2 separate regions of the Homo sapiens genome follow, and region 1 is linked to region 2. The links come from fine-mapping of genetic effects on gene expression. A gene starts in region 2. The other region holds a variant in brackets. All regions are shown on one strand. Distances are between the middles of the regions. Region 1 overlaps MAP3K3 (mitogen-activated protein kinase kinase kinase 3). Region 2 holds the start of MAP3K3 (mitogen-activated protein kinase kinase kinase 3).

What was found. PIP is the estimated chance that this variant, and not a neighbour inherited with it, causes the effect. A credible set is the group of variants that fine-mapping cannot tell apart.
Region 1: its variant is the best candidate, but not a certain one, in a credible set for the expression of MAP3K3 in spleen (GTEx, PIP 0.77).

The regions. Positions count from the first base shown.
Region 1 is chr17:63,641,157-63,657,543 of GRCh38, forward strand. It overlaps MAP3K3 (mitogen-activated protein kinase kinase kinase 3), which reads left to right. Exons shown (of 16, transcript NM_002401.5): 3 at 4,878-4,918; 4 at 11,401-11,500. Among named protein-coding and RNA genes, the nearest start is that of MAP3K3, 27 kb to the left of the region's middle. RefSeq lists enhancers at 5,887-5,936, 14,209-14,258. The variant G/A (reference allele first, on the strand shown) is at 7,516.
Region 2 is chr17:63,615,790-63,632,176 of GRCh38, forward strand. It overlaps MAP3K3 (mitogen-activated protein kinase kinase kinase 3), which reads left to right and starts at 6,628. Exons shown (of 16, transcript NM_002401.5): 1 at 6,628-6,974. The coding sequence starts at 6,971. RefSeq lists silencers at 5,869-5,938, 6,549-6,938, 7,029-7,088, 7,329-7,378.

The sequences.
Region 1 (16,387 bases), 25 kb after region 2:
AATTCCGTAAATTGGATACTATCATTCTCACTTTACAGATGAGGAAACTAAGTTATAGGTTAAGTATGAGGCTGCAGTGCCATTACTTTTTTTTTTTTTTTCCTGAGATGGAGTCTTGTTCTGTCACCCAGGCTGGAGTGCAGTGGCGTGATCTCGGCTTGCTGCAACCTCCACTTCCTGGGTTCAAGCAATTCTCCTGCCTCAGCCTCCCGAATAGCTGGGATTACAGGTGCCCGCCACCACACCCGGCTAATTTTTGTATGTTTAGTAGAGACGGGGTTTCACCATGTTGGCCAGGCTGGTCTCGAACTCCTGACCTCGTGATCTGCCCTCCTTGACCTCCCAAAGTGCTGGGATTACAAGGCCACCACGCCCAGCCTAGTGCAGTTAGGTTTAATGGCAAAAACTGCAATTACTTTTGCACCAACCTAAGTTCGAGGTTACACAGCTAGGAAGTTGTAGAGCCAAGATTTGAAGCAGGCAGTTGGACTCCAGTGCTACATTCTTAACAACTACATATTGGCCTCAGATACGTGGCAAGCAGATGAGCCTTGCTTCAGTGATTGGGGCTACATATAGAGATTGAGGAATCATCTATTTAGAGGCCCACTGAGAAGTTGTATGCAGAGCAGGAGAAAGCCAGAAGTCAGAAGTCGCAAGGTTGAGGAATGGTCATGTGTTTGGGGAGGGGTGGGAGAGGGCATGAACAAGAGGAACCAGCAAAGAAGCAGAAGTGGTCAGAGTGGTAGCAGGTTCCCTGTGCTGGGATAGAGTCACAGAAGTTGGAAATAGAGTTGGCCACCCACCAGTGTGAAATGCCTCAGAGAGGACAAGAAGAATGGCTGGCCGGAAGGCATTGAATCAAATTATCTTTATCTGAACTTCCCTTATCTATGGCTTATTATGGTCAACCTGATGGGTGAAATTCAGATTTAGGGACTCAGAAGATTTGGGCATATCATGTGGTTCATGGAAGCTTGTAAGGCTGTCATGGCATCAAAGAAGCATCTTTGTTTACACTGCTTTTTAGTCACAGGCTTGGTTAGTCTTAAGTAGCAGTGATTTGTGGTTTGGAACAAAAGTTTAATTCCCTTTCTGAATAAATTCATGTAGAGCAGTGCTTAGGTTATGGCTCGTTATGAAATAAATTTAGTTCCTTCATTTCCATAAAGGCACTGAGGAGATTCCTTCATTAGTATATCTAAATATAATGTTGTCCCAGGGCTGGGGCAGTGGCTCACACCTGTAGTCCAAGCACTTTGGGAGGCCAAGGCGGGTGGATCACTTGAGGTCAAGAGTTCAAGACCAACCTGGCCAGGGGTGAAACCTTGTCTCTACTAAAAATACAAAAATCATTCAGGCATGGTGGTGCATGCCTGTAATCCCAGCTACTTGGGAGGCTGAGGCAGGAGAATCACTTGAACCCAGGAGACAGAGGCTGCAGTGAGCCGAGATCGCGCCACTGCACTCCAGCCTGGGCAACAGAGTGAGACTCTGTCTCAAAAAATAAAAAAATAAATAAAATGTTGTCCCAGTTTAAGAATGAAAGCTGTTATGTGTGTGTGTGTTTTTAACCTCGTTTTTTTGTTTTGTTTTGTTTTGTTTCAATATATTTTTGAGACAGAATCCTTGTTCTATCACCCAGGCTGGAGTCCAGTGGCGTGATCATGGCTCACTGCAACCTCAAGCCCCCCGGGCTCAAGCAATCCTCTTGCCTCAGCTTTCCAAGTAGCTAAGACTACAGGCGTGTGCCACCACAACCAGCTAATTTTTGTATTTTTTGTAGAGATGGCGTTTTGCCATGTCGCCCAGACTGATCTCAAACTCCTGGGCTCAAGCAATCCTCAAACCTCGGCTTCCCAAAGTGTTGGGGTTAGAAGCGTGAGCTACCACACCTGGCCTAAAACTTCTAAAAATGAAAAAAAAAAAAAATTAAACAAAAACAAAAACCTGAGGAAATATGTGAGTAAACTATGGACTTTAGTTGATATATCAATATTGATTAATTAATTGTAACAAAAAGAAATATACCATACTAATGTAAGATATTAATAATAGGGGAAACTGGCTGGGTGTGGTGGCTCATGCCTGTAATCCCAGCACTTTGGGAGGCTGAGGTGGACAGATTGCTTGAGCCCAGGAGTTTGAGACTAGCTGGGCAACATGGCAAGACCCCATCTCTACAAAAAGTTACAAATTAGCCCAGTGTGGCGACATGTGCCTGTTTGTAGTCCCAGCTACATGGGAGGCTGAGGTAGGAGAATCAATCACCTGTGCCCGGGAAGTCAAGGCTGCAGTGAGCCGTGATCGTACCACTGCACTCCAGCTTGGGTGGCAGGAGTAAGACCCTGTCTCAATAATAACAATAATAATAATAGGGGAAACTGTACAAAGGGGAGAAGGATATATCAGAACTCTGCTCTGTATGCTCAGTTTTTCTGTAAATGTAAAACTCTTCTAAAAATAAAATTTATTAATTAAAATAATAGAGCTACAGCAAGGTATGCTGGGCTGTAGGCAGGAACAGGTAAAAGGATGTATAACCCTCCCACAGGGGCAGACAGGACTACAAACTTCATAGAGCACTTGGGATACTCCAGATCCAGTTGAGGAAATAGTGTGGGAAGCTGGAGACCACACATCAGAGCATGGCAACTCTGCTTTAGAGGACTCTTGTCATGGTAACTGTTTAGAATTTCAGGGGAACGAGAAAAAGAAGATAGTGAAAAACTGCTCTCAGTGCCTGTGTGACACTTAAGTTGTAGCATAGCATGGTAGTTAAGAGTCAGGCTTCCAGGGTTCAAATCCTACCTCTTCCTTTACAAGCGATATGACCTGACCTTGGGGGAACTTACTTAATCTTATTGTAACTCAGTTATTTTCTGTAAAATAGGGATAATAATGGTACTTGTTTTGAGGATCAGTTTAATTAATATATGTAAACATGCTTAGAACAATGCTTGGTTTGTGGTAAATGCTCAATAAACGTTAGCTATTATCATTATTATTAATGGATAAAGTGGTCCATGTGTTATCTTACAGGATAAGAAGGCTATATCAGGGCTGTATATTTTTTGAGACAGGGTCTCACTCTGTCACCCAGACTGGAGTGCAACAGCATTGTCTCAGCTCACTGCAACCTCTGCCTCCTAGGTTCAAGCGATTCTCCTGCCTCAGCCTCCCGAGTAGCTGGGATTACAGGTGTGCGCCATTACTCACGGCACACTTTTTGTATTTTAAGTAGAGATGAGGTTTCACCATGTTGGCCAGGCTGGTCTCAAACTCCTGACCTCCAGTGATCTGCCCGCCTCGGCCTCCCAAGGGGCTGGGATTACAGTTGTGAGCCACTGTGCCTCTGGCCTTTAATTGCCATTTTAAATGAATAAAGTAAATTTTCTCAGTTTTAATTTTGAATATGGTAAATACCAATAGATATAATCCACATAAGCAAAAGCTCTTTGGGGTCTTTAATAATTTTTACAGTGTAAATTAGAACCACTCTTGTAATTCATTGAACTGGAAGAGAAGTCTAGTCCCTTAATACCTTGGGAAAAGGGAGTCCTTTAGGCATCTACCCTTCCTTTCAAACTCACTCCCTTTTCTGTTGTCTGTTTGCTATGTGTTCCTCATCTTCAAATACTCTTAAGTCCTCTTTCTTCCAAGCCACAGCCTATTAATTTGTCTTCTTCAAAATAATTTTTCTTCATCGACTATGACTTCATTCTCTCCTTTATCTCTATTATTTGCTGGTTTCCTGCCCATCTTACCTTTCTTTTCCTCTACACCTGTTCTTCTGTAATATCTCTCTCCTTTCCCTGTCATTTTTTAAACTCCCTCAAGTTGTTTGTTTGCCCTTTTGCAATATCTCTTCCTCTTTAATTTGTTCTTTGTCATTTTAACATTTCTACTTCCTCTTATTTCTCATATTTATACTTCTGTTCTTCAATTCATTCAACCACTTAACAAATATTATTAAGCACAAATATTATATGCCATTTCCTTTGCCTGGCACTGGGGATATAGAAACATGATAGACCTCGGGAGGCCGAGGCAAGAGAATCGTTTGAACCCGGGAGACGGAGGTTGCGGTGAGCCGATATTGTGCTACTGCACTCCAACCTGGGTGACAGAGTGACACTCCGTCTCAAAAAAAAAAAGAAACATGATAGACCTGATCTCTGCTCTCCTGCAGTTTACAGGCTACTCATGATGGTCATTTTGGAAAAGGCTGGGAACAGTGTATAAGATCCTACTTTACCCCCAGTGGGGTAGCTTTGGGAGGGTTTTGGGAAATCAATGATAGTGGTACCAGTGGCAGCAGCAGCAAAAACCAAATATTGCATGTCTATTATGTGTCAGGTATTTTACTTACATTTAGTTGTTGTAAGAACTCTGCAAGGTATGTTTAGGCTTACTCTACAGATGGAAAAACTAAGACTCACAGAGGATAAGTAACTTGCCTGTGGTCATATAGCTAGAAAGCATCAGCAGCAAAATTTCTTTTTTGTCTTCAGTCACATCAGCCAACAAGGAAATGTATCCTGGTCAGGAGGTGATAGAGTGGGAGAAACTTCCAGAGCCAATTGTAGAAATAGGGTGTGTATGAAGCTAGAAACAGCATGTCACAGCATAGCAACTGAGCTGGGCAGCCACCTAGGGATCTTACCCTAAGAGCTTTGTTGTCCCTGATGTTAGAACTGGAAGTTTTAACTCATTGGAAAGGAATGCCCATGCCCATCTGGGAAGAGAAGCTGGACCAGGAGCCATCAGGGATGTATGCCTAATGTTGCTAACGAACTGCCCAAGGCTTACTTGGCAATGGCAGGAGTGACACATTCCAGAGAATTCTCTAACCTGTCTATCATTCTTTTTGGCAGAGTGACGTCAGAATCAAGTTCGAGCACAACGGGGAGAGGCGGTAAGTCTGCCTTCTGATGAGTAGCTGTGTTCATGTATGCCAAAGTTCTCAGATAGCATTGAGTTCATGGAAGTCATTCCCCTGTCCTGATCCCTGTGGGGCCACTGGCTGGGTAATAGGGTGGATTGGGCATAAAGGGAGGAAAGTTTCACCCTTGTCTTGGCCTACTAATTGAACCTTGTTCCTATCTTAGCATTGGAAGCCATTTCAACTGCTGATGTTTTACTGTTCTGCTCTATTCTGCTGCTGTGAGGTCTGACATTTTATTAGGAAGTGAGGACTCTGGCCCTACTCAGAGTCATGGCTTTCAGACACACTGACACTGTGTCACCTGTGGGCATTAGAGGGAGGGCAGGATTCTCCTGTGATATGGTGCCATTACTATTCCCAGTAGAGCAGCCCTGGCTTTGTCCACATCAAGGGTCAGGTTGGTGAATTAGAAGTTTCTTCATGATGTCTCTAGGTCATGGGAAGCTGCACCAAGTCCATCAGTTGTAAAAGACTTTAGCTCCTTTGAGGACATAGAAAGAGGGAGTTTTTCGGTCTGTGTTCTGAATCTTACCTCATTAGGGAAGTGAAAGTAGTGTTACAAAACTCTTCTGTCCTTTTCTCCATTGTCAGTATTTTCATTATTGTTATTTTTTGTGGGAAGCCAAGGTAGAAGTTCTCAGTAGAAAAAATGTGACTGTACTTAATTTCTGAAGTTATTTAAGGAAAACATTCAGAAAGCATACAGAACTCTGGACATGGGATATTTGGGACCTTGCATGTTTGTGCATGTGCGGCACATGTACACATAAATGTGCCTTTCGGTGTTTTTTCCACTCTTTGCCTTTCTTTCCCATTGATATACTACCCCCTGCCACCCTCAGCTTTCCTTTGCTTTGAGCATTTGGACAGGTGAAGAGCATACCCATTAGTATGAGGTCTTCCTACTTTAAGAGTCTCACCACAGGACCTTAGTACCTCTAAACATTCTTGATTCTGGTAGTTCTCTACAGTTGGTACCTTTCAGCCTACTTTGCAGCTGGCTCCAGAGGAGACCTGTGGCTACTATTCTCCCTTTAAAATACACATTCACAAGCCTACAAGGTTGTCAGAGGCAACCCGGTGGAAGCATTGTGGAAAGTGTGGTCTGCAGAGCCAGGGTCCTTCTGCTCCTATGTGAGTTCCAGGCCTGGAGGGAGGAAGGTCTGAGCTCTGTCCCCAGCTGCTCTTCCTGTGTCCTGCCATTAGCAGAGAAGTTAAATTGTCACTTCACTGTTGCTACTTTTCACATTTTCCAACCTGAGTTTTAAAGGGATGGCCAAACTCAGAGCAGCAGAGTTTTCAATCAAAAGCACAATTGTGTTGGAGCCCAATTACGCAGTTAGGCTCTCCTGAATTCCCTGTTCCCAAAGTGGTATGCAGTTACAGTGAGCAGGCTTACACTGAGAAAGTGTATGTGTTTGGTTTCAGAGAAGCTGCCAGATTGAAACCACAAATATTTAAGGTGGTCAGGCAGGAATGGCCTTCTGAAGCCCTGAGCAGCAGAACGTTGCTTATCAAGGTTTTGAAAATGGTGCATTCTCTTTTTACGGAGCTGTTTTCAGGAGCCATGGCATTTCAGTGTTTGTGTACTATATGTGGAATTGAGGACTTTATAAAGTTGGTGCAGGGAAGCCAACAGAGTTAGTACTCTGTGCCACACAGCTCTAGTTTCGTGTATTTCACGTCAGGATTTTGTAGAGAATGTCATTATGGGCATTTTAAACTTTTTACCTGGAATATGGGTAGTATTTATCTAAATGTAGGCCCTTATAGAATTAGAATTCACAGGAAAGAGGAAAGAAGTCATGACTTTTCCCACTTATCCATGACAGGTATTCATTCTGGTGGGCTGACTTTCCCTTTACTTTGAGAATATGGGGACCAGACCCCTGACTGTCCTCCCTTTTGGCCCCAGGAGGGCTGGGGAGAAGGATTGTAGATTAAGATCTCCTTCCCTTTGGAAATGTTAATGACACACTGATGGGGGTGGTTGCATGGGTGTTAGACCTCTCTTTGAAGCACTGGCCTAAAAATGCCTGTTATTCAATAGGATGGCAGCAGCTTAGATCTTACCCAATCTGGAAGTCCTGGCCTCTGATCTTGACCAGACTTTCAAGCTGCTTTTGTGGGTTTTGAATGGCTCATTGCTAGGCCAAATGCAGAAGAATTTATCTCTGATCATGATCCTTTTTCAATAGTGTGCTAGGGACATCTGAGTGGACTTCTGGTATTTTATCCAGAAAGGCTGGACCCTTTTGCACTGTTGCTGAGGCCTTGAAGAAGGAGGGGTATGATTTGCTATTAGGCATTAATAGAAAGCTATCCTCTCAAAAGGCTTCAGAAACACCTCTATCTAGAGAATCCATCTAGATAGCACCTAACAGTATCACTGCTTGGGACAGTTGATTTGGAAGAAAAAAATATAAGAATTACAGTCTGGGCCGGGTGTGGTGGCTCACGCCTGTAATCCCAGCACTTTGGGAGGCTGAGGCGGGCAGATAAAAAGGTCAGGAGTTCGAGACCAATATGGTGAAACCCCGTCTCTACTAAAAATACAAAAATTAGCC[G/A]GGCGTGGTGGCCGGCGTCTGTAGTCCCAGCTACTCGGGAGGCTAAGGCAGGAGAATCGCTTGAACCTGGGAGGTGGAAGTTGCAGTGAGCCGAGTTCGAGCCACTGCACTCCAGCCTGGGGGACAGAGCGAGACTCCATCACACACACACAGAAAAAAGAATTACAGTCTCAATGGGTTTCCTAGTGGAGATGAAACTAATTTGGTTAGCAGTATAATTTCCAAAAATGAAAGGTGGTGATGGACAAAGGAAAAAAACAGGAAGGAATTACCTTCTTGAGATGTTAGGCTTTGCGTGAAGGATAGATTATGGTTTATATTAATAGTCTATCAATGTTGCCCTGTAGAACTTTCTGCTATAATGGAAATGTTCTATATCTGTGCTGTCCAGTACACATATGGCTGCTGTACATGTGGCTAATGAGCACTTGAAATGTGGTTGGTGAGACAGAGGAACCTTTTTCTTTTAAGACAGGGTCTCTGGGCCAGGTACAGAGGCTCACGCCTGTAATCCCAGCACTTTGGGAGGCTGAGGCAGGAAGATTACCTGAGGTCAGGAGTTCCAGACCAGCCTGGCCAACATGGTGAAACCCTGTCTCTACTAAAAATATAAAAATTAGCTGGGTGTGGTGGTGCACACCTGTAGTCCCAGCTACTCGGGAGGCTGAGGCAGGAGAATGGCATGAACCTGGGAGGTGGAGCTTGCAGTGAGCCGAGATCGTGCCACTTCAGCCTAGGCGACAGAGCGAGACTCCATCTCAAAAAAAAAAAAAAAAAGTAGACAGGATCTCTGTTGCTCAGGCTGGAGTACAGTGGTGTGATCGTGGAGCCTCCACCTCCCAGGCTCAAGCAGTCCTCCTGCCTCAACCTCCCAGGTGCCTGGGACAACAGGCACACTGCCATAGCCAGGTAATTTTTGTAGAGACAGGGTTTGCCATTTTGCCCAGGCTGGTTTCAAACTCCTGGACTCAAGCTATCCACCTGCCTTGGCCTTCCAGAGTTCTGGGATTATAGGTGTGAGCCACTGTACCTGTTCAGGAACCAATTTTCAGTTTAATCAATTTAAATTTAAATAGTCATATGTGGCTAATGGCTGCCATATTGAATAGTGCAGATGCAGTTCTAGATGATGAAGGCTTTTATGCTTCTCACTGATTTGAGCCAACCTGTTACAGAAGAACATTAAAGAAATTATCTGGTCAGATTTTATTAAAACCCAATGGTTTAGATCCCTCTCTCTTGTGGCTTATTGCTTCTTCCTCTGGTTACACCACTTCCCACTCTGGGGGAGCAGGGAAGATGAGAAAGAACCACACACTTCTTCCTCTCAGCATGGAAGAGGACAAGAACTGCGCAGGCCCATGGCTGAATACTGCTTGCTCCAACACACACTAGTCTGATTTTATCCTGCTTAGGTGTACTAAGAGATGAAGGTTGTTTTAATAGGCATTTCTCCAGTCACATTGGGCATCTTTTCATGTGTTTTATTAGCCACTTACAATTCTTCTGTGAATTGTCTAATCTTTTGCCTTTTCTATTAGATTGTCTTTTATTGATTTTTTACAAGTATTTTCTCAAAGTTTGATATTTGTTTAACTTTGTTGATGGCTTATTTTGCAATCAGAAGTTTATTTATTTATTTTTTTGAGACAGAGTCTCTTGCTCTGTTGCCCAGGCTGGAGTGCAGTGGTGTGATCTCAGCTCACTGCAACCTCTGCCTCCTGGGTTCAAGTGATTCTCCTGCTTCAGCCTCCCAAGTAGCTGGGATTGCAGGGCATGTGCCACCACACCCAGGTAATTTTTAAATTTTTAGTAGAGATGGGGTTTTCCCATGTTGGCCAGGCTAGTCTTGAACTCCGGACCTCAGGTGATCCACCCACCGCAGCCTCCCAAAGCGCTGGGATTACAGGCATGAGCCATCTTGCCTGGCTTGTCTTCTGTATTTTATGTTATGGTTAGGAAGACCTTCTCTCTCTCTGTCTCTTATAGAGAGAGAGAGAGAGAGAGAGAGAGAGAGAGAGAGAGTTTTTTTTTTTTTTAGACAGGGTCTCATTCTGTTGCCTAGGCTGGAGTATAGTGGCATGATCACAGCTCACTACAGCCCTGATCTCCTGGGCTCAAGTGATCCTCCCACCTCAGCCTCCCAAGTAGCTTAGACTATAAGCATGTACTATCACACCTGGCTAATTTTTTAAAAAAATGTTTAGTAGGCAGGAGGGCTCACTATCTTGCCCAGGCTGATCTTGAGCTCCTAGCCTCAAGCGAGCCTCCTACCTTGGCCTCCCAAAGTGCTTGGCCCCCAAGATTTTTTTTTAATTCTGTATTTTCTTATATAAATTTGAGAGTATGTGTGTGTATGAGTTTCTTTCTTATATTCTTTTCTTCAGTTATCTCTGATTATTTTTAGTCATTTCTGTTCTAGAGTATTGGGTTGAACCCATATAAAATTGCCACTTTTATATATCAAAAATGGTCGGCCATCAGTAGTCTCATATAGTTCAACCTAATACATTCATTCAAACTTTTTATTGGCCAAGCATGGTGGCTTACACCTATAATACCAGCACTTTGGAAGGCCGACGTGGGAGGATTGCCAGAGTTCAGAGGTTTGAGATCAGCCTGGGCAACTTATTGAGGCCCATCCCTACAAAAAATAAAAAATTAGTCGGTGCATGCCAGTAGTCCCAGCTACTTGGGAAGCTGAGGCAGGAGGATTGCGTGAGCCCCAGAGGTTGAAGCTGCAGTGAGCCGTTATCATTGCCACTGCACTCCAGCCTAGGTGACAGAACGAGACTCTGTTTTGAAACAAACAAACAAAAAAACCCCACAACTTTTTATTATGGAAATTTCAAGCACACACAAAAGTAGACAGAGTATTAAACTGAACTCCCATGGACCTGTCACCCAGCTTCAACATTACTAACATTTTCCCAGTCTTGTTTTATCAATTCCCACTTTTAAATTTTGCTGAAGTATTTAATAACAAATCAGATTTTACACCTCTTTGGATGACTCCTTACTCTACCTTATATTTGTAGAAATTGTTCTTTGAACTGACCTAATGAGTCTCTCCAGAAAATCTTCAATGTCAATACTAGTTACATGCACAGATATGTCACTGGTTAAGAAAACTGATCAGGCATATCACTAACTCAAGGGGGAATTCCTGTGACTCTGTAGTAGAAAATCTTAATTCTGAGGAAAATCAGTATGGAGATTCTTATGGCATCTCAAAGATGAACGATGGAAAAGACCTTTCAAGTCCTAGAGTTGAGTCCCTTAGGAGTTGAGGCCATGTTTTCAGGACTGCTACTCCAGTCTGTACGTTTTCTACCTTATTTCCTAAATAATTTTTTTCTTTCAACTTTTATTTAAGTTCTGGGGTACATGTGTAGGATGTGCAGGTTTGTTACATAGTTAAACATGTGCCATGGTGGTTTGCTGCACAGATTAATCCATCACCTATATATTAAGCCCAGTATGCATTAGCTATTCTTCCTGATACTCTCTCTTCCCCAAGTCCCAACAGCCCCAGTGTGTATTGTTCCCCCTCCATGTGTCTGTGTGTTCTCATCGTTGGAACATAGTTTTTAAATCTAGTGGCCTCTTCTGTCATTGGCAGAAGAGTCTAAGCTGAAGTGGTAGATGAATGGTTGGGATTGAGCAATAGTTGTGGGTACTGTTGTCAAACCTGATAGATGCTCAGAGGGTGAAAGGTAACGGTAGAGAAGAGGAAAAAAGGAAACAATCGGGAAAAGGCAAATTGAGTGAAAGAAAACAGAATCCTATGTTGAGAAGAAAGGAAGAATATACTCAGACCATTGCTTTTTAAACCCTACGTTTTAAGTATACAATTAACCAACCTTTCTTTCTGTTTCTTTTCAGAATTATAGCGTTCAGCCGGCCTGTGAAATATGAAGATGTGGAGCACAAGGTGACAACAGTATTTGGACAACCTCTTGATCTACATTACATGAACAATGAGGTGAGAAGGCAGATGGATGGGGCAGGGACAAGAGGGGCAGATGCCTACCTTTTTTCTCTCTGTTTACCAGAGCCTTTAAAGTTTGTTCCTCTAATATCATCTGCAGGTTTTCATTTTCTAGACCCCCTTTTCTTAATTCCAACAACTGTGGGATCTCTGTTTTTTACTACATGGGAGATTACTCAGCCATCTCAGCCATCTCCATTCCCCCTACTCATTCAGTGCAGATAGCTCTAATATTCCATGGTGGAATCAGGTATGGTACCAGGGCTAGGGCTTATACTGTCTCCTTTACATTTTGTAGGAGTATCTTATTTTTTTCCCCCCAGCACAGCCTTAACAAGAAGCAGAGGGTTTAGCAGGGGCTAGGGAGGTGTGAAAAACCAGTGAGTAGGTCATCTATTACAGTCATAAATGCAGGATTCTTCTCTTAGAGTTTCTTCTGATTGGAGCTTATTTGTTTCAAATGTTAGCACCTGCTCCAATAAGTTCTTTAACTCCTCCTCCTCCTCACTCCACCCCAACGGTCCTTATTTACTTCTACTTTGAATATCACCCAGGAAGGAATTCTTTTGAATGTCAGTTTCTGGGCTGCTTTCCCAGCTCCAAGAAGAATATTACAGACTACAATCAGCTTAGGCTGGTGCTTTGCAGTGTATTTATGCTGAGTAAAGAATGTGTACCTCGAGGAAATTGAGTTAGGGGTGCAAGACAAGAAAGCTGGGCAACATCATGACCCTTTGAGAACCAGATCATCACTGTGTAGTTTTATTTTATTTGATGAGGAGTTAAAATTTTTCTTTTAGTAAAGACTTTTCTGAATCATTTAGTACTCTTTTCTTTTTCAGTTAATATTTCCATTAAGAATTCCTGATGTTTCTTTATTCTAAAGCCAAATATAAATCATTGTTATTATTTTAGTTCATACATGTCTTAACATACTCTACTAATGTTAATGATCAGGAGTTGACTAACTTACATTTGATTAATTTAAAATCCCTCAATTCCGTTCTTTTGTTTGCCCTTTAAACCCTGCACTGTCAAGATCTAAGAATCCCAAATGAAAAATCTACTGAGATTTTATTTATTTATCTCTTTGTAATTATAGTTTTATTGAGATTAAAAAATTTATCATCTAAAAGTATACCATTCAGTGGTTTTTAGTATGCTGATAGAGTTGTGCAACCAACACCGCTATCTAATTCCAGAACATTTTCTTTTTTTTTCTGAGACAGAGTCTTGCTCTGTCGCCCATGCTGGAGTGCAGTGGTGCAAACACGGCTCACTGCAGCCTTGACCTCCTGCGCTCAAGCGATTCCCCCACCTCAGCCACCCAAGTAGCTGGGACTACAGGCACACACCATCACACCCAGCTAATTTTTTTGTATTTTTTATGGAGGCAGGGTTTCACCATGTTGCCCAGGCTGGTCTCAAATTCCTGAGCTCAAGCGATCTGCCTGCCTCAGCCTCCCAAAGTGCTGGGATTACAGGCATGAGCCACCGCACTTGGCCTCCAGAACATTTTTATCACTCCAAAGAGAAACCTGTACCTATTAGCAGTTATTCCCCTTTCTCTCCTCTTCTCAGCTCTTGGTAAGCACTTATCTTTCTGTCTCTTTGGATTTACCTATTCTGAACATTTCGTGTAGTGCAATCATACAGTACGTGACCTTTTTTGTCTGGCTTCTTTGACTAAGCGTATGTTTTCAACGGTCATCTGTGCATGTTGTCAGTATGTCATTCTATTTTATGGCTGAATAATAAATATTCCATTTATGGATATACCACATTTTGTGTATCTGTTCATCTATTGATAGACATTTGGGTTGTTTTCATTTTTTGGTGATTAAATAGTGCTGCTATGAGCATTTGTTTACAAGTGTTTAAATGAACATATGTTTTCAATTCTGTAAGGTATATACCTAGGCGTGGAATTGCTGGGTCATAAGATAACTCTAACTTTTTGAGGAACTGCCCAGATTTTCTATAATGGTTGCACAATTTTACAGTCCCACTAGCAACTTATGAGTGTATTAGTCTATTCTCACTCTGCTGTAAAAAACTGCCCGAGACTGGGTAATTTATAAAAGAAATAGGTGGCTAGGTGCAGTGACTCACGCCTGTTAATCCCAGCACTTTGGGAGGCTGAGGCGGGCAGATCACGAGGTCAGGAGTTCGAGACCAGCCTGGCCAACATGGTGAAACGCCGTCTCTGCTGCTGATATAAAAATTAGCTGGGCATGGTGGTGCACACCTGTAGTCCCAGCTACTCAGGAGCCTGAGGCAGAAGAATTACTTGAACCCGAGAGGCGGAGGTTGCAATGAGCCGAGATTGCAGCTCATTTGAGACAGAGTTGAGACTCTGTCTCAAAAAACGATTAAAAAAAATTATTTTATTTTATTTTTAAATAAACAAATAAAGGAAAGAGGTTTAATTGACTCACAGTTCAGCATGGCTGGGGAGGCCTAGCAAACTTAACAATCATGATGGAAGGGAAAGCAAACACATCCTTCACATGGCGACAGGAGAGAGAAGGGCCAAGCAAATGAGAAAAAGCCTCCTATAAAACCATCAGATCTCGTGAGAACTCACTCACTATCAGGAGAACAGCAGCATGGGATAACCACCCCCGTGATTCAGTTACCTCCCACTGGGTCCCTGCCACAACACATGGGGATTATTGGAACTACAAATCAATATGGGATTTGGATGGGGACACAGCCAAACCATATCAGTGAGGGCTGCAGTTTCTCCACCATCCTTACCAACATTTGTTATTTTCTTCTTTTAATAGCCATCCTAGTAGGTGTAAAGTGATATGTCACTGTGAGTTTTGTTTTTGTTTTTGGTTTGAGACAGGGTTTCACTTTGTTGCGCAGGCCAGAGTGCAGTGTGCAATCATGGCTCACTGCAGCCTTGACATCCTGGGTTCAAGTGATCCCCCCACCTCAGTTTCCCCAGTAACTGGGACAATAAGCACATGCCACCACACTGAGCTAATTAAAAATAAATTTTTGTAGAGATGGGGGTCTCACTATTTTGCCCAGGCTGGTCTTAAACTCCTGGCCTCAAGTGAGCCTCCCGCCACAGCCTCCTAGGATTACAGGTGTGAGCCACTATCCCCAGCCTACTTGGTTTTTTTTATTTAACTCCCTTCCCAACCATTCTTATTTATTCCCACTTTGAATGTCACACAGGAAGAAATTCTTTTGCAATATAATATGATTTGCAGAACATTCTCCCATTCCATAAGTAGTTTTGAGATTTTATTTTAAATATGTACTGTTTTTGGCGAGGCGCGATGGTTCATGCCTGTAATGCCAGCACTTTGGGAGGCTGAGGCAGGCAGATCTCTTGAGCTCAGGAGTTCAAGACCAGCCTGGACAACATGGTGAAACCCCATCTCTACAAAAAGTACAAAAATTAGTCGGGTGTGGTGCCTCATGCCTGTAATCCCAGCTACTTGAGAGGCTGAGGCAGGAGGATCACTTTAGCCCAGGAGGCGGAGGTTGCTGTGAGCCGAGATTGTGCCACTGCACTCCAGCCTGGGCAACAGAGGGAGATGCTGTCTCAAAAAAAAAAATCTTGTATTATAAATTGGGAACTGTGTAAGTTAATTGGACTTTTGCTTGATTTTGTGTTTACCATACGTGTATAAAATCTGACCAGGCGTGGTGGCTCACTCCTGTAATCCCACCAGTTTGGTAGGCTGAGGTGGGCAGATTACTTGAGGTCAGGAGTTCAAGACCAACCTGACCAATATGGCAAAACCCAGTCTCTACTAAAAAAAAAAAAAAATTAGTGGGGAGTGGTGGTGTGCACCTGTAATCCCGGCTACTCTGGAGGCTAAGGCAGGAGAATCACTTGAACCCAGGAGGTGGACATTGCAGCAAGTTGTGATTGTGCCACTGCACTCCAGCCTGGGCGACAGAGTAAGACTCTGTCTCCAAAAAATAAGAAGAATAAGAATAAGATCTGACATTTGCTAGGTCCTAAGCAAGGCATACGTTTGCATCTTATGAATCTCTTAATACCAAGTATTCATAACATGCTCTGCTTTTTGCAGTGAGTGAGACTTATTTGTACCCTCAGGGACCTTCTATTTAATATTTCACTGGAACGTATGAGTGTATTAGTCTGTTCTCACGCTGCTGTAAAAAACTGCCCAAGACTGGGTAATTTATAAAGGAAAGAGGTTTAATTGACTCACAGTTCAGCATGGCTGGGGAGGCCTCAGGAAACTTACAATCATGACGGAAGGGAAAGCAAACACATCCTTCATATGGCGACAGGAGAGAGAAGTGCCAAGCAAAGGGGGAAAAGCTCCGTGAGAATGGAGGAGGTAGTTTTCAGGTTCTAGTCACTGACTTTGCCCTTAAACAGAAAGATAATTAAACCGTGCTATGCAGTCTAAATTTGTGTTTTTATTTGTATAACAATTTTCATCCTCTGACCATCCCTCCACCCCTTCTCTTCCTTTTCTGCTTGTTCTATTAATGTCAGCACAATTGGCAGTAGAGTGGGACATGATCCTACTTAATTTGGAAAAGAATATGGGGGCTGTAACTGTTTGCAACTTGATATTTTGAAGTAAATTAGTGTTTTTGGAGAGGCAGCTCTTCTCAGAAAGTATCTCACAACTGGGTACTGAGGTATGCTACAGCATGGATGAACTAAAAAACATTAAGTGAAAGAAGCTAGATGAAAAAGATTGAATCTTTATGAATTGAATTGAATATGTATGAATTGTATGAGTCTAAATGGAATGAAATGTCCAGAAAAGGCAAATCAATAGAGATAGAAAGTAGAGTAGTGGTTGCCTGGGGCTGGAGGTGGGAAGGAGGAGTGACTATAAATGGGCACAAGAGATCCTGTTGGAGTTCTGG
Region 2 (16,387 bases):
ATCCCAGCACTTCAAGAGGCTGAGGCGGGCAGATAGCTTGAGCCGAAAGAGTTCAAGACCAGCCTGGGCAACATGGCAAAACCCTGTCTCTACAAAACATACAAAAGTTAGCAGGGCATGGTGGTGTGCACCTGTAGTCCCAGCTACTTGAGAGGCTGGGGTGGAAAGATTGAGCCCAGGAGGTCAAGGCTTCAGTGAGCTATGATTACACCACTTCACTCCAGCCTGGGTGATGGAGTAAGACTCTGTCTTCAAAAATAAAATGAAAATAAAAAGTCAGGTGTGGTGCCATGAGCCTGTAGTATCAGCTACTGAGGAGACTGAGACAGGAGGATCCCTTGAACCTGGGAGGTTGAGCTTGTGGTAAGCTATGACTGTGCCACTGTACTCCAGTCTGGAGGACAGCAAGACCTTGTCTCAAAAAAGAATTTTCGGCTGGGTACAGTGGCTCATGCCTGTAATCCCAGCACTTTGGGCGGCCAAGGTGAGCGGATCATGAGGTCAGGAGATTGAGACCATCCTTGCTAACACGGTGAAATCCCGTCTCTACTAAAAATACAAAAAGTTAGCCAAGCATGGTGGCAGGCGCCTGTAGTCCCAGCTACTTGGGAGGCTGAGGCAGGAGAATGGTGTGAACCCGGGAGGCAGAGCTTGCAGTGAGCCGAGATCACGCCACTGCACTCCAGCCTGGGTGACAGAGCGAGACTCCGTCTCAAAAAAAAAAAAAAAAAGAAGATAAAATACTGCATATACCTAAAAGGGAACATTATGGAAATTACATTCAGTTACTAACATCTCCATTTGAGGTTCACTTACTCATTTGACAAATATTTGTTTTTTAATGTGCTATGAAAGATGAGAGGCATGCTGATTTGAAAGCAGCTTCTGTCTTTATGCTTAATTTGGTTGTTTTGTTTTGCTTTGTTTTGCTTTGTTTTGTTTTGTTTGAGGGTCTGGCCCTGTCATCTAGGCTGGAGTGCAGTGATAGGATCATAGCTCACTGTAGCCTTACCTCCTGAGCTCAAGCAGTTCTCCAACCTCAGCTTCTTGAGTAGCTAGGACTACAGGCACACGCCACCATACCTGGATAATTTTAAATTTTTTTTGTAGAGACGAGGTCTAACTATGTTTCCCAGACTGGTCTCAAACTCCTGGCGTCAAGCAATCCTCCCTCATTAGCCTCCTAAAATGTTAGGATTATAGACATATGAGCCACCACACCTGGCCTTTTTATACATACTTGGTTAAAGACAATTATTAGCAGGACACATGCTTTGATGAAGAAAGTACCCAGTGCTCTGACAGCATGTCTGAGGGCCTTAACCCGGACTTGGAGTTGTCTGTCTGAGAAGGCTTCCTGGAGAATGCTGTATAGGCTTAGCTCTTCCCTGAAAGAATGGAGGTGGGGGCTGGGCGTGGTGGCTCATGCCTGTAATCCCAGCACTTTGGGAGGCCGAGGCGGCAGATCACGAGGTCAGGAGATCGAGACCATCCTGGCTAACGCGGTGAAACCCCGTCTCTACTAAAAAAAAAATACAAAAAATTAGCCAGGCGTGGTGGCGGGCACCTGTAGTCCCAGCTACTCGGGAGGCTGAGGCAGGAGAATGGCATGAACCCGGCAGGCGGAGCTTGCGTCACTGCACTCCAGCCTGGGCGAGAGAGCAAGACTCCGTCTCAAAAAAAAAAAAAAAAAAAAAAAAAAAGAATGGAGGTGGAAGCAGAAGCGAAGAGGATTTCATGCAGAGAACATAGCACACGCAGAGGTATAGAAGCAAGAGAAATTCACATTTGAGGAATTGCTGGTGGTTCTATGTGGCTGGGGCATAGAATTTGAATAATGGGGTTAACTATTATAGTTAAGGTGGAAATAGAAGGACGTGTGGCTGAAGAAGAAGGTATGGGTTGGGTCCTGAAGGACCTTCTTAACTACATTCACATATATGACTTATCCTAAGGGTGATGGGAAACTTTTTAGGGAGGGTATGGCAGAATCAGGTGTCCATTTCAGAAAGATCAATCTGTGATGTGAATATATGTTGAGAGGCTGTTACGCTTAAGTCATGCAGGTAAGAGATTTTGGTGGTTTGAGCTAGGGTGGTAAAATGGGATGGGAGAGGGATGGACAGATTGGAGACTTGTTCAAGACTGGCTGTGGGGGAAAGAAATGGAGAGAAAGAGCTATCTGATCATTCGAAGGTATCCAACTTGGGAAACTGGAGAGGGACAGAGAAAATACAGAACTATGGGGGAAAATGGTTTCAGTTTGGACCCAAAATTGGAGGTTCCTGTGGGACACCCATGTCTGTGGAGTTCAGAAGAAAGACATCCCTGAGCTAGAGACACAGTTGAGATTCTGGAATCCTCAGCGCATATGGTAACTGCAGTATGGGAATGTTTGAGATGGCTGGTTGAGACACCGACAGTGCAAATGAAGCCACAAAGAAGGCAGTTGTAAGAAAGGTAGAAGGTAAATCAGAAGGTTGTTTTCAGCTAAAGACTCAGGTAGATGTACTGCGGTTCTCCATGTGTGAGGCACTATTCTAAGTGCTGGTGATAGAGCAGTAAGCAGGACAAAATTCCTGCTCCTGCATACCTTATGTTTGTGGTAGTTGGAGTAGAGCAAACAAATAAATATATAATTTTAGCCACTGAGAAAAAAAAACAAGGAAAAAATATACAAATACAGAATGATGGAAGGGAGGGGTCATTTTGGATGGGGTGATAAGAAATGACTTAAAAGCAGACGTTTGAGCAGAGACTTGAATAAACTGCAGAAATGAGAACATCTTGGCTTGGTAGTTTCAAAGAATGGAAAGAAGGCCAGAGTAGCTAGAGGACAGTGATGGAGGGACAGGATGGAGGGGCCAGCTCCTATTGGGCTTGGCAGGTCATGACAAAGAATTGGGGTTTTATTCTGAGTGTGATGGGAGGGAAGCCATTGGAGGGCTGACAGTGGGCAGGGGGTAGGGTGGCGTGATCTGAATTACATTTTACAGGGATCACTCTGGTTGCTATTGGGGAATCATTTGTTGGGCTGCCACAGAGGAAACAATGGAGGCCAGATAGGAGTCTGGGGCAGTCATTCAGGAGAGTAGGTGGTGGCTTGGATAAGGGGGGTGGGATGAGAAGTGGTTGGATTCAGGTGTGTGTGTGTGTGTGTGTGTGTGTGTGTGTGTGTGTGTATTTTTATTGTATTTTTTTTGGAGACAGGGTTTCACTCTATTGCTCAGGCTGGAGTGCAGTGGCACAATCTCGGCTCACTGCAACCTCCGCCTTCTAGGTTCAAGCGATTCTCCTGCCTCAGCCTCCAAGTAGCTAGGATTACAGGCCACCACACCTGGCTAATTTTTATATTTTTAATAGAGATGGGGTTTCACCATATTGGCCAAGCTGGTTTCGAACTCCTGACCTCAGGTGATCCACCTGCCCTGGCCTCCCAAAGCGCTGGGATTACAGGTGTGAGCCACTGCGTCCGACCTGATTCAGATACATTTTGAAGTGGGAGCTGAAAAGATTTGCTGCATGTTTGGATATATGGGTGTCAGGGAGAGAGAATAATCAAGGAACACTCCTAGGTTTGTACAGAGGGTCTCTGACTTACTATGGTTCGGCTTATACCTTTTTTTTTTTTTTTTTTTTTTGAGATGGAGTTTTGCTTTTGTTGCCCAGGCTGGAGTGCAATGGCATGATCTTGGCTCACTGCAACCTCTGTCTCCCGGATTCAAGCAATTGTCCTGCCTCAGCCTCCCAAGTAGCTGGGATTACAGGTGTGCGCTACCACGCCCAGCTAATTTTTTATTTTTAGTAGAGATAGGGTTTTACCATGTTGGTCAGGCTGGTCTCGAACTCCTGACCTCAAGTGATCCACCCGCCTCAGCCTCCCAAAGTGCTGGGATTACAGGTGTGAGCCACTGTGCCCCGGCCTCAGCTTATGATTTTTGGCGTTATGATGGTTCAAAAGCAACACACAATTCAGTAGAAACTGTGCTTTGAGTACAACCATTCTGTTTTTCATTTTCAGTACAGTATTTGGTAAATTACATGAGCTATTCAAAACTTTCTTATAAAATAGGCTTTGTGTTAGATAATTTTGTCCAACTGTAGGCTAACTTAAGTGTTCGAGCACGCTTAAGATAGGCTTGGCTAAGCTATGATGTTCAGTAGGTCAGGTGTATTAAATGCATTTTCTACTTAACGATTGTTCATCTGATGGTTTATCTGGACATGGCCCCATGGTAAGTCGAGCAGCATCTGTGCTTTAGCAATTGGGAAAACAGAAAGGAGCATGGCAGCTCACACCTGTAATTCCAGCAATTTGGGAAGTTGAGGTGGGAGGATTGCTTGAGCCCAGGAGTTTGAGACCAGTTTGGGCAAAATGGTGGGACACCCCCAACTCTACAGAAAATTTTTTTTACAAAGGCTCTACTCTACCTGACAAAATCTTATTCCTTAGTATTTAATTTCTCTTCTTAGGGAGAATTTAAATTTAATTAAGTAATTTAAATTAAAATTTTTTCCTGGCAGGGGTGGATAATGAAAAAAAGGTTGAGAAACACTGGCCTAGTGCAAGAACATGGCCTTTGGGAGTCACACAGGCTTGGTATGAATCCTGGCTCCACTACTTGGACACAGTGCTTAACCTCTCTAAGCTTCACTTTCATCATTTAAATGCCCACAGTATTAGCATAATAACCTTAGAGTTATTGGAAAAATTAAATGCAATGACGTGCCTGTTATATTGATAAATACTAATTTTCTTTCCCCTTTATCCCCGCTTTCAAGAATAGAGATTATTATAGTTAAGGAACTCCAGTAAACTGGGTAGAGACCAAATCAAGTGGGAATATGGCAGGCTTAAGCTTGTTGGAAGAAAAAGAAAACAGGACAAGGGGGCTGATTAAATATACGGAGATGAGTGTAAAGAAATAAGGGAGGCTGCTTGCAGTGGCTCACGCCTGTAATCCCAGCACTTTGGGAGGCCGAGGCTGGCGGATCACCTGAGGTCTGGAGTTCGAGACCAGCCTGGACAACATGGCGAAACCCCGTCTCTACTAAAAATTCAAAAATTAGCCGGGCGTGGTGGCGCACGCCTGTTAATCCCAGCTACTTGAGAGGCTGAAGCAGGAGAATTGCTTGAACACGGGAGACGGAGGTTGCAGTGAGCCGAGATCGCGCCACTGCACTCCAGCCTGGACGACAGTGTGAGACTCCATCTCGAAAAATAAAAAAGAAAAAGAAAAGAAATAGGGGAGAGCCCAAGGTAATTCTTAAGGGATTTGACACTCAAGGCAAAGCCACCACTAAATGTTCTTAGTGGACAGTGGACAATGACATCTGAGGAAGATTATTCTGGAGCCTGACATATTACACTGGAACAGAGGCCGGAGAAAGGAGCCCACATTAATTGTGGTGGACTTGGAATCTGAAGATCTGAGTGTATAAAATGTTGAACAATGAAAAGGTTGGGGAAATTAATTATGGTGCCTTTAATTTTGAAACATCATGCAATCAGTACAATTGTTTTGGAAGGATATTTGGTGGCACGGGAAAACAGAATAAAATGTAAGCATACTACAAAACAATACAAAGCCATTTTTGTCAAACGCCTATCTAGGTAGGAAATAGATTATCTCTGGGGTGGGATCTTTTCTTTTTCATAGTTTTCTGCATTTTTCAATTTTCCTACAAAAAGCTCGTGTTGCTTTTATAAGAAAAAAGTTATTTTCTGAAAGAACCTCTGGCGGAACTCAGATTTCCAGGGACCCACATGCCAGCACTATCCCAGCCTCGGGTGTCTGAGGTACCTAGACCAGAGGGTGTGGCCCTGGAGGTGTGAGACAGGGAAAGCTGGGCTGGGCCGGCCGCCCCTGCCCGGGGCAAGAGCAGCGTCGGGACCGGAGGACCAGTCGGGGGATGGGGCCGCAGAGGTGGCCGCGCGCCGGGAAGTGCTCAGGCCAGACCCTCCCCACTCGTTACACGCCCTGTGCTGGGCACGGGGAGGAGCAGGACGCCACCCTCTGGAACCACCCAGATCGCTGGGGCCTCCGAGAACCCGGAGGGCGGAAGGCCTGAGGGCCCCCTGCAGCCGCCTACTCCTCACCCCAGCCCTAAAGTAGCCGGCGGGGAACTGCGCCAGCCCGCGCGCCCGCCGAGCCTTCGGTGACTGACGGGAGGTGGGAATGTGGGCGGAGCCTCACGCCGGAGCTGTGATTGGAACAACCAACACCTCCCAATCTCTCCCAAGAGAGGGAGACAGCACCAGAGAGGGATGCGCAGAGGCGGGGGCTTAGAGGCCTCTACGTGATTGGCTAACAGCGCAGGGAGCCGGGCGCTGTCCCGATGATTGGCAGGCGCTAGACAGCCCTCGGAAACCGCCTTGGCTTCGCCCATTGGCATCCTGTGAGAGTAGGCGGGATTGGTTCATCGTGTGGTGCTGATGATTAGCTGGCCGCTGAGAGTTAGGGTGTTGGGAGAGAGTTGGAGGGGGACGGCGGGGGCTGCCGACTTCCTTCTTGTTATTGGCTGGTGAGGTGGGTGGGGGTGGTGCGACGGCCCAGCGGCTGCCTGGGATTGGTGGGGGCCGGCGTGAGTGACAGACAGGGGGGCGAGCTGCGCGACCAGCGGTTTGTTTTTCGGAGCGTTCCTGAGGTGGAGAACGGTGGCCGGACGGAGAGACTGCGGGTCTGAGGGACTGGCGGGCGGGCGGGCCGAGCGGCGCCGCCGAGGCCGGGCTGGGCCGAGCCCAGGAGCGCCCGGGATGTAGCGGGCCACCCTGCCGATGCCACAGCGCCCGGCCGCGGGCGGAGCCGGAGCCGGAGCCTGGGGAGGCGGCGGGGGCCCAGAGCGCAGCCCGCGCCCCCCGCGCGGAGCCAGGCCCGCTGCCGTCCCCGCCGCCCGGGCCCCCGGCATGCAGCCCCGGCTGCGGAGGTGACACTCACGGACCTTAGCCACCGCCGCCGCCATCGCCACCATGGGTAAGTGTCGCCACCGCCCCGGCCTGTGCCCGCGCTGCTTCGCGACGCCCCGCCCCAGGCTGAGGGAGGAGGACCCTGGGCCACCGCCTGACAGGCATGGACAGCCCGCCCGGCCCGGGGCTGCGGACCGCCGGCCGGCCGGCCGCCCGCCCCGCTCGCGCGCCGCGGCCCGGGCGGGGGTTCTGGCTCCGCGGGGCGGCCCGGCCGGCAGAGCCCGCTCGGCAGCCCTCCTTCTGGGCGGCGCGGCGGGCGCATCCCGGGGAAGCGGCGGCGGGACCGAGGGCCCGTGCTCCGCGGGGCAGCCTGGTCCGAACGAGCCGGACCGCGAGCCCGAGGGCGGGGGAGCAAGAGCGCAGTGTGGGGCCCGGGCTGGAGGCTGCCGCAGGCCCAGCTGCTGTTGTGTCTTTTCCTTGATTTGCTTTTTTTTCCTGCCTGTGTCATTTCCTTCCCTTTGCTCACACAGGCCGGCCTGTGAGAGTTCCCGGGGCTTGCTCTCCAGCCCTGTGCGCGCCCCAGCGCAGGGGGGAGGGCGTGCGGGGCTCGGCTAGGAGGCGATTAAACTGGAGCTGTGATCAAGCGCGCGGTTGACAAATGCGTGCTGCACGCAGATTGCTGGGGGTCAGGAGTTGGTCGGATGCTGCCAGTTAGAATTCACATCCTACTTTTTGAAAAATCCCGTTGCAGGGGTTTAATCCATTATTTTTTTCTTGCGGTATCCCTGAAATTATGTAACTTTTGAAAGAAACATTTGCTACACAAAAGAATTTCTCTGAAATCACTTCCTTTTTGTCAGTATTTACAATTTCTACTGTGAAGATGTAATCTAAGGAAAGCTTTTAATGTCTTCCGCACGTAGCATTTGAGTTGAATTATATTCCATATCCTTTTTGGTAGTTTAGCAAATGACTACTGGACTAGACTAAGAAATAACATTTTAAACGTTCTTTACTTCTCCTGCCCAGACAGGTGTTGTGATACTGTTGTCACAAGTTTTGCAAAATATTTGGTATTGCCCTAAATAATAATAAAAGGGTAAACTTCAGTGAGAGGATCGTTTGCAAAACGTTCCGTTGCTTCTGTGAAGTGCCCCATGTGAAGAGGGAGCCTTAATGTTTGCCTTGCCCTATAGCAAGGTCAAGTCCTTTTTGTAGGAGGTTAACTGTACGCTATGTCAAATTCGCCAGATATTGTTTTGTGACCCATCTCTACACCCTGGCTTTGAATGAATTGCCTTGTTCTAGTTCATGCTGTCCCTCATACAGTATGAGAAGGGTTTGTTCATTTGCTGGGCTTACTGTTTCCTTCTCATGCTTTCCTTCAGAAGTGCGTGCTCTTCTGAGGGAAGGTCTGCTGTGAGAGTGGACATAAAAGGAACCCAGTAAGGCCTGGTATTTAAATATATAATTGAAGAAATGTTTATTGAATTTTTTTATAGATGAGACACAGAATTCTTGTCTACCCCAGGATTCAAACATTTATCTTGTATTATAGATTTTGAATAAATCTTCGAATTGATTTATGAGCCTGTATTGTGATAGTCTTTCTTACAAGTCTTTTTTCTTGTCCTGTGGGGGCAGCTGTTAGTCCCAAAGGAGAGTGTGAAATACTTAAGGGTATGTAGACCATCCACTTCCTACTTTGTTGACTGCTACACCAGTTAGAGTGCCCACATGTGTTGACTACATCTCATTATCTAACATGAAAATAGATATGAACCTGTTTTCACATTTCAAGACATTTTCAAAAAGTTTATAAGTGTGTGAGTATATGGAGACCAATGATGGGGAGGAAGGAAACTATATAGGCTGGGTCTAGAGCCCCAAAGAAAAAAGGGCCAGGACCTCAGGATCTTCTCATTTGTCCCCACATCAGTTGTCCTCCTGTCAGTTTTACGTGAAGACACATGTAAAAGGAACATGCAAGAGGAATTAACTTCCCTGGTGGCTGCAGTATATTAGGCAAGCTAGTTTAAGAACCACTGCCCTAGCTTTCTTCACTTTCCCCCATACAATTCTCTCCATCTTTTTTGTGAGGGGAAAGTAGATGACCTTGATACACTGTTAGAGCTAATATTGAATTCTTCTTGACACCTGGCTGTTCAATTTGCTTTGTATAGAGCTCATTGAGGATATGTATACACAGATACATTCACACACAGTCTCTCTCTTAAATACTAGTTTCCATTTTGGTGATGAAAATTTGAATTTCCAGTTTAGTTAGTTTGCTTTTAGTTGCTGTAGTTCTAAATAAACTCAAAGGATTGATAAGAGAGAAACATAGACTTCTTAGTATTTTAGTTATACTTGTTAAACTCCAGCCTCATGAAGAAAGGACTAAAACTTGAGTCTCTGCCCTGCAGGTTCTTTGGTTAAGTAACAGTCACATTTTCCTGAGCTGTTCTAAGCCCAAGACTGAAGCCTGTTTGACAACTTGGGTTAATAAAAACATGTCAGATTTTATATTGTCTGTTAGCCCCAATGAATTTCTAGTGGAAATTATTTATCTCTGTAAATAATAGGAAATTTTTTTTTTTGCTTTGATACTATGTGGCTATAAAAAATTGGGATTGACTGGTTGTTTTTTCTTGGTCACTCCAGAATTCATTTCCAGATTTAGTAATCATAGTGGCAAATGCTGTTCATAATACCTGAGATTGTTTATGTGGTCTTTTTATAAACGCAGTCTGAAACTTTATATATCACTGAAAAATATGTAACAACTTGGAAATGCTACAGGAAACTATAGTGAATGGAGTACAGGATTACAGATGATCTGGTTCTGGTTTGAAGTCAGAATTATTGTGACTTACAGACACCTTGTCTAGGGTTCCAAGGCTGTTAGGAGCTCCCTGTTAGAATAGTCTCAATTCAGTTTGGCTAGAATCTGACCACCTATGTAGACTCTGAATAGTTAGCAGCTGTTTTGATTGAAATTTGAATCACAGTTTAATAAATCAACATGGCTATGTCATTACTAGATTTCTGATATTTTTAAAAATGACAGTTGGATTTTAAAACTGAATTTTAGGTTGGGCATGGTGGCTTACACCTATAATCCCAGCACTTTGGGAAGCTGAGACTGGTAGATCGCTTGAGCCCAGGAGTTCGAGAGCAGCCTGGGCAACATGGTGAAACCCTGTCTCTACTAAAAACACACAAACTTAGCTGGGCGTAGTGGCATGCCCCTATAGTCCCAGTTACCCAGGAGACCGAGGTGGGAAGATCATCTGAGCCTGGGAGGTTGAGGCTGCAGTGAACCATGATCGTGTCACTGCACTCCAGCCCAGGCAACAAGAGTGAGAGACCCTGTCTCTAAAACAAAAAACAAACAAAAAATAGCTGAATTTTAGGCATCTGTAAAAAGTAAGTATCTGTCCAACTGAGCATTACTTAGGGGAATACACAGAGGATAAGATGAGGTTTTTCTGGTTCTATGGAAGCTGTTAATTTATTCTTTGCCCATTTGTTGAATGCCTCCTATGTGCCAGGCATAGTATTAAGCCCTGTGCCTGTGTTATCCTGTCCTCAAGAAGTTACAGTTAGGTAAGGTGAAGCAGAAACATGTAAACAATTAAGTGCAAAAGTGTGTAAAGATATACAGGAGAGAGATCAATTCTGTCGTTTTGGTATTGACACATGTAATTCTATAGTCTCCAGTCCTTTGGGTTAATTTCACTAAACGTTAAAATGTAGTGGTGATATATATTGATTCTTATGAGGAATAAATGGCCTACTTTATAATATGTGTTTTAAGAATTTGAACCATCAATTAATATTGAATGCCTATTATATCTTAGAACAGAAAAACGCCAGCATTTGACTTTGAGATTTAGCAAAGGTTCAACCATTTCTTGAAGGATAAAAGTTTCTTATGAATTGAGGGTCTGGCCTTATTGCATATACTCATTGTAAAATGATGTTTGCCTGGGCATGGACAGGGTGGAGGCAGTGGAAGTATGTGGAATGTCATGAAGAGAAAGTAAAATCTGACTCAGGGACACTGAAGCACAGACTCTCCTGAGTGGGCAGTGCGATCAGACGATCTGGTGGAGCTGGGTAGAACATTGTCAAGATGAAGAAATAACATCATTAGTTAAATGAAACAAAACAAAGATTAAAACATTACTTTGGGGATTGTATCTATGGAAAAGAGAGAGAGTGTGTGGCATAGTAAACAGACACCATACGGGATAACAATGTTTATTAGAGAATGTGGTGCTTCTGGCAACTTTTCTGGGTTGTTAGCCAAGGGAACTCACAAATGGGAAGTGCCTTAAGACCCTGCTTTGAGATACAAGTAATAGCTCAGTCTGGAAGAGTGGCTTCCTGCTGGAGCTAAAGAGAGGAGTATGTTGCCTGGCAGCCTCCATACCACAGGTTGGGGTACCAGGAGAAGAAAAACTACATGCCACTGGGGAATTACTTAAAACTGCCTAAGAGCTTCTACTTTTTAAGCCTGAACTCTAATCCTTGTTTGATAGATCCTTTTCTAGTTCCATGAATACTCCTCCTTTTCCTAGATTCTTAACCTCTTAATCTCTAAAATTAACCTCTTTCTCCTTATGCTTCTTCCTGGTAGCTTCTAAGTGTGTCAGACCACTCCCACTCTCAGGAAATCTTTTCAAAGTTATAAGCACACTATTACGCTACCTCAACTTGTTCACGTGTAAAGTTCACAAATACTTTTTTTTTTTTTTTGGGGTGGAGTTTTGCCCTGTCACCTAGGCTTGAGTGCAGTGGCACGATCTCAGTTCACTGCAACCTCTGCCTCCCGGGTTCAAGCAATTCTCCTACCTCAGCCTCCCGAGTAGCTGGGATTACAGGCACCGGCCACCATGCCTGGCTAATTTTGTATTTTTAGTAGAGACAGGGTTTCACCATGTTGGCCAGGCTAGTCTTGAACTCCTGACTGCAGCTGATCCACCCTCCTCGGCCTCCCAAAGTGCTAGGATTACAGGCATGAGCCATCGTGCCTGGCCATGACTAATTTTTTGTATTTTTTGTAGAGATGGGGTTTTGCCATGTTGCCCAAGCTGGTCTCAAACTCCTGGGATCAAGTGATATGCCCGCCTTGGCTTCCCAGAATGTTGGACTTACAGGTGTGAGCCAATGCGCCCGGCCTGTCACTCTTATTTTCTTCAATCCTTTTTTTTTTTTTCTGAGACAGAGTCTCTACTCTGTCGCCCAGGCTGGAATGTGTTGGCATAGTCTTGGCTCACTGCAACCTCTGCCTCCCAGGTTCAAGCTATTCCCATGCCTCAGCCTCCACAGTAGTTGGGATTACAGGTGTGCACCACCACGCCCAGCTAATTTTTGTATTTTTAGTAGTGATGAGGTTTCACCATGTTGACCAGGCTGGTCTTGAACTCCTGACCTCAGGTGATCTGCCTGCCTCGGCCTCCCAAAGTGCTGAGATTACAGGTGTGAGCCACCACGCCCAGCCAGCTTGCTTTTCTTAAAGAATCTTTAGTCTGTTAACAATTATGTAAAATCATCCATATAACCTCTTATATAACCATATAAGCTACTCATATTTAAAAATATTTATTTTTATACATTTGTATTTATATACTCTGGTTTATATATTGTCTAATTCTGTCTTTTTTTTTTTTTTTGAGACGGAGTTTCGCTCTTGTTGCCCAGGCTGGAGTGCAATGGCACCATCTTGGCTCACCGCAACCTCCGCCTCCCAGCTTGAAGCAGTTCTCCTGCCTCAGCCTCCCGTGTAGATGGGATTACAGGCATGTGCCACCACGCCCAGCTAATTTTGTAGTTTTAGTAGAGACGGGGTTTCTCCATGTTGGTCAGGCTGTTCTCGAACCCCTAACCTCAGGTGATCCACCTGCCTTAGCCTCCCAAAGTGCTGGGATTACAGGCGTGAGCCCCTGGGCCCTGCCAATTCTATCTTTTTTTTCATACAACTTTGTATTTGTGTGTTGTTTATCTTTTTATCCCTAGAGTTTGAACACCTTGAAATATCTTTTAAAACTTTCTAATGTGTAATACAAGATAAGTATTCAGTAAATTGTTGTTAATGATTTATAAAAGTTCAGTAATAAAATTAAGTATTAGGGTAGATTAAATGGCCTCCAGTCTTTTTCCATTGACCTTTTCTCATTGATGATAATAATAGCCAGCATTTTTTTAGCATTACTGTGTTAGGTACCATAAGAAATAATTCGTAGGTTTTCTGTTGCTTTTAACTCCCACAGCAGCTTTGTGAAATGATGCTTTATCTCCATTTTACAGATGAGGAAATTGAGGTTTGGAGAGAATAAATGATTTGCTCAGGGCCTCCTTACCAAATTTTTCTGACTCTGAAGTTCATATTCCTAACTGCTTCAGTCTAAGAAAGTTGTTATTTGTTGTTTTTTTTTTTGAGATGGAGTCTCGCCCTGTCGCCATGCTGGAGTTCAGTAGCGCTATCTCAGCTCACACCAACCTCCGCCTCCTGTGTTCAGGCAATTCTCCTGCCTCAGCCTCCCAAGTAGCTGGGATTACAGGCGCACACCACCACGCGCAGTTAATTTTTTTGTATTTTTAGTAGAGACGGGGTTTCACCATGTTGGCCAGGCTGGTTTCGAACTCCTGACCTCAAGTGATCCACGCATCTTGGCCTCCCAAAGTGCTAGAATTACAGGCGTGAGCCTCTGCGCCCAGCCTGTTATTTGTTTTTAAAAGTTTTGTTTGTTTTTAAAGAATGCCACATTGGAGGAGTGCTGATAATTCAGTTAGTCTCAGTCCATACCACAGAGATAACTGGCTTGTGGCAGCCAAGTGTGCATAGTGATGTTGCTTTTTAGAAGGAAAAAAAACAAAAACAAAACCTCAATCCAGGAAGAAATGCCTAAAAGAGCCACTTGATTTACTTCCTGTCTTTATACATGTCCTCTGAAGTATCAGTTGAAGAACCTGTCTACCTCTAGGAATGTATTTTACTTTGACACAAAATTAGATTCTATAACCCTGATTCACTTGTGTCAGTTGTCCCAGATTTCAGATGACAGTGCCAAACTTTTCCACTAGTGTGTTCTCAGCTCTGGAACTACTAAACAAGTTTGTTCATTAAGTAATGCCAGGAATTGGTTAGCTTCCTGGAAACAGAATTTGTCAACCTGATAAACCAGCTCTTATAATAGCGTCATCTTATACAGAATTAGAAATGATTTCTTCAGTCATACTTGTGGATCTGACTTGAAAAGTGGTGTGTGTATGTGTGTGCCTGTATGTGTATTCACATCCATCTTTGTTCAATATCTGAGTTGAAAGAACTGAAAATTCTCAATACTTAGGGTGGTTAATGTTGTTACTGATAACTCCTTGCATTCCGCTTTTAGGAGTATTGTTGGATGCTCCTCAGAAAACACTTAAACCTAGTCATAATCCTCCTTGTATTGATCCCAATTTATTATTACAGTTGGCCCAATTTTATATATATTTAATAATATCTAAGCCATTTAATATATAAACCTATACATATTATATATAAGCCAATCTTCCTAGCTTAGATGTTATGCTCTAGTTTTTAAAGTTTGGTTGTGAGGATAAAAATCAAAACAAAAAACCAAGTTCCCTTTTTGTTTTTGGGACAGGGTCTCACTGTCGCCCAGGCTGAAGTACAGTGGCATGATCATGGCTCACTGCAGCCTCAACCTCCTGGGCTCAAGTGATCCTTCCACCTAAGCCTCTCAAGTAGCTGAGCCTACAGCGTGCACCACCATGCCCAGCTAATTTTTTGTATTTTTTGTAGAATGTAGTTTTGCCATGTTGCCCAGTCTGGTCTCGAACTCCTGGGCTCAAGCAATCCACCTGCCTCAGCCTCCCAAAGTGCTGGGATTACAGGCATGAGCCACCCTGTCCAGCCAGGTTCCCTTCTTTAAAGAAGCTATAGGGAAATTGTAGAAGGTATAAAATAATTGATGGGATATATATGTGTTAATTTGACAGATGTCTTTTTGTAGATACCCACTTTCTCCTCATTCATTATCCCCTTTACTGCATGCTTTCTATATTACAGCTATGTCACTCTCATACATACTTTTGTATATGTTTTGAAGTGGAATCATATGGGAAGTTATGCTCCTGGTGGTTTTCCTGCAAGTTTTAAATCTAATTTTACTTTCCTGAACAAGCAAAAACCTCTTTATAGGCAACTTTGTCCTTTTCTGTACCTCGTCAGAGGGCATATAGGGCACCAGAGCAGATTTCGTCTAGGAAGAGGGGAGAGGCAAATAAGGTGAGGGGCCAGGCACGGTGGCTTATGTCTGTAATCCCAGCATTTTGGGAGGCTAAGGAGGGAGGATCGCTTGAGCTCAGGTGTTTGAAATCAGCCTGGGCAACATGGTGAAACCCTCGCTCAATAAAAAATACAAAAATTAGCAGGGCATGGTGGTGTGCACCTGTAGTCCCAGCTACTCTGGAGGCTGAGGTGGAGGATTGTTTGAGCCTGGGGGTGGAGGAGGCTGCAGTGAGCTGTGATTGCACCACTGCACTCTAGCCTGGGCAACAGAGTGAAACCCTGTTTCAGTCAGTCAGTCAATCAGTTAATCAGTAGTGGGAGAAGAGACTTGAGCAGTTTTACTTCCTACATTTCATGCTGTTCGTTTCTTTCCACAGGGTATTAGAATATTTCCAAGGGACAGTGATAAAGGGTAGAAGATAGGCACTCTCTTTGGGTGGAATCTTTTGTATTTGCTTCTTTTAAGGTGTGCCCCAAGTCCCCAAATGGCTCAGTTGTCACCAAAGCAAGTGTAACAACTCATCCCTCATGTTCCCTTCACGATCAACAGATTTATTCATTTTCAATCTCCAAATGCTATTTGAATGGGCAAAGATCTCTTAAAGGACCTGGGAAAAATTTGTACAACATGGAATTGGACTGGTTTGTGTTCTGGGTTTTGGCCAGTTGTTTTCAATGTATGAGAACTCTAGTACTCCATGCTATTTCAAGAAAAGGGGATTAAAAGTAATGCCAGTAAGGTGGAGACAATGCATTGCTTGGTCAGCTTAGGGAGGAAAAACAATAGAACTACCCTTTGACTTCCCCATGGGAAGTAGTAGGCCTATAAACTTGTAAAGAGTTGTGGGGGTTGCTGGTGGTGGCGGCATTCAAATGCTAGGCTTGTAAAACAACTTCTGTTCAAAGCAGTTACCTGAGGCCCTTATTTGGTACCTTTTAAAGTGTGCTCTCCTCCTTATGATGCTTTAAGAATAAGTCTGGGACTGACACTGTGCCATAATCCTCTCTCTATGGATTCATCTTTTCATTCAGTACCATATTACATTGTACTGTGTTCTTCACTTCAATTTTTCATCTATTTTTCCTGGTTAAGTTTCTCTGGCACTGGACCAACTGCCCTGTTTGAGCGTGTCCCTTCCCTGCAATGAATTGGTAAATATTGCTGCAGGAAATCT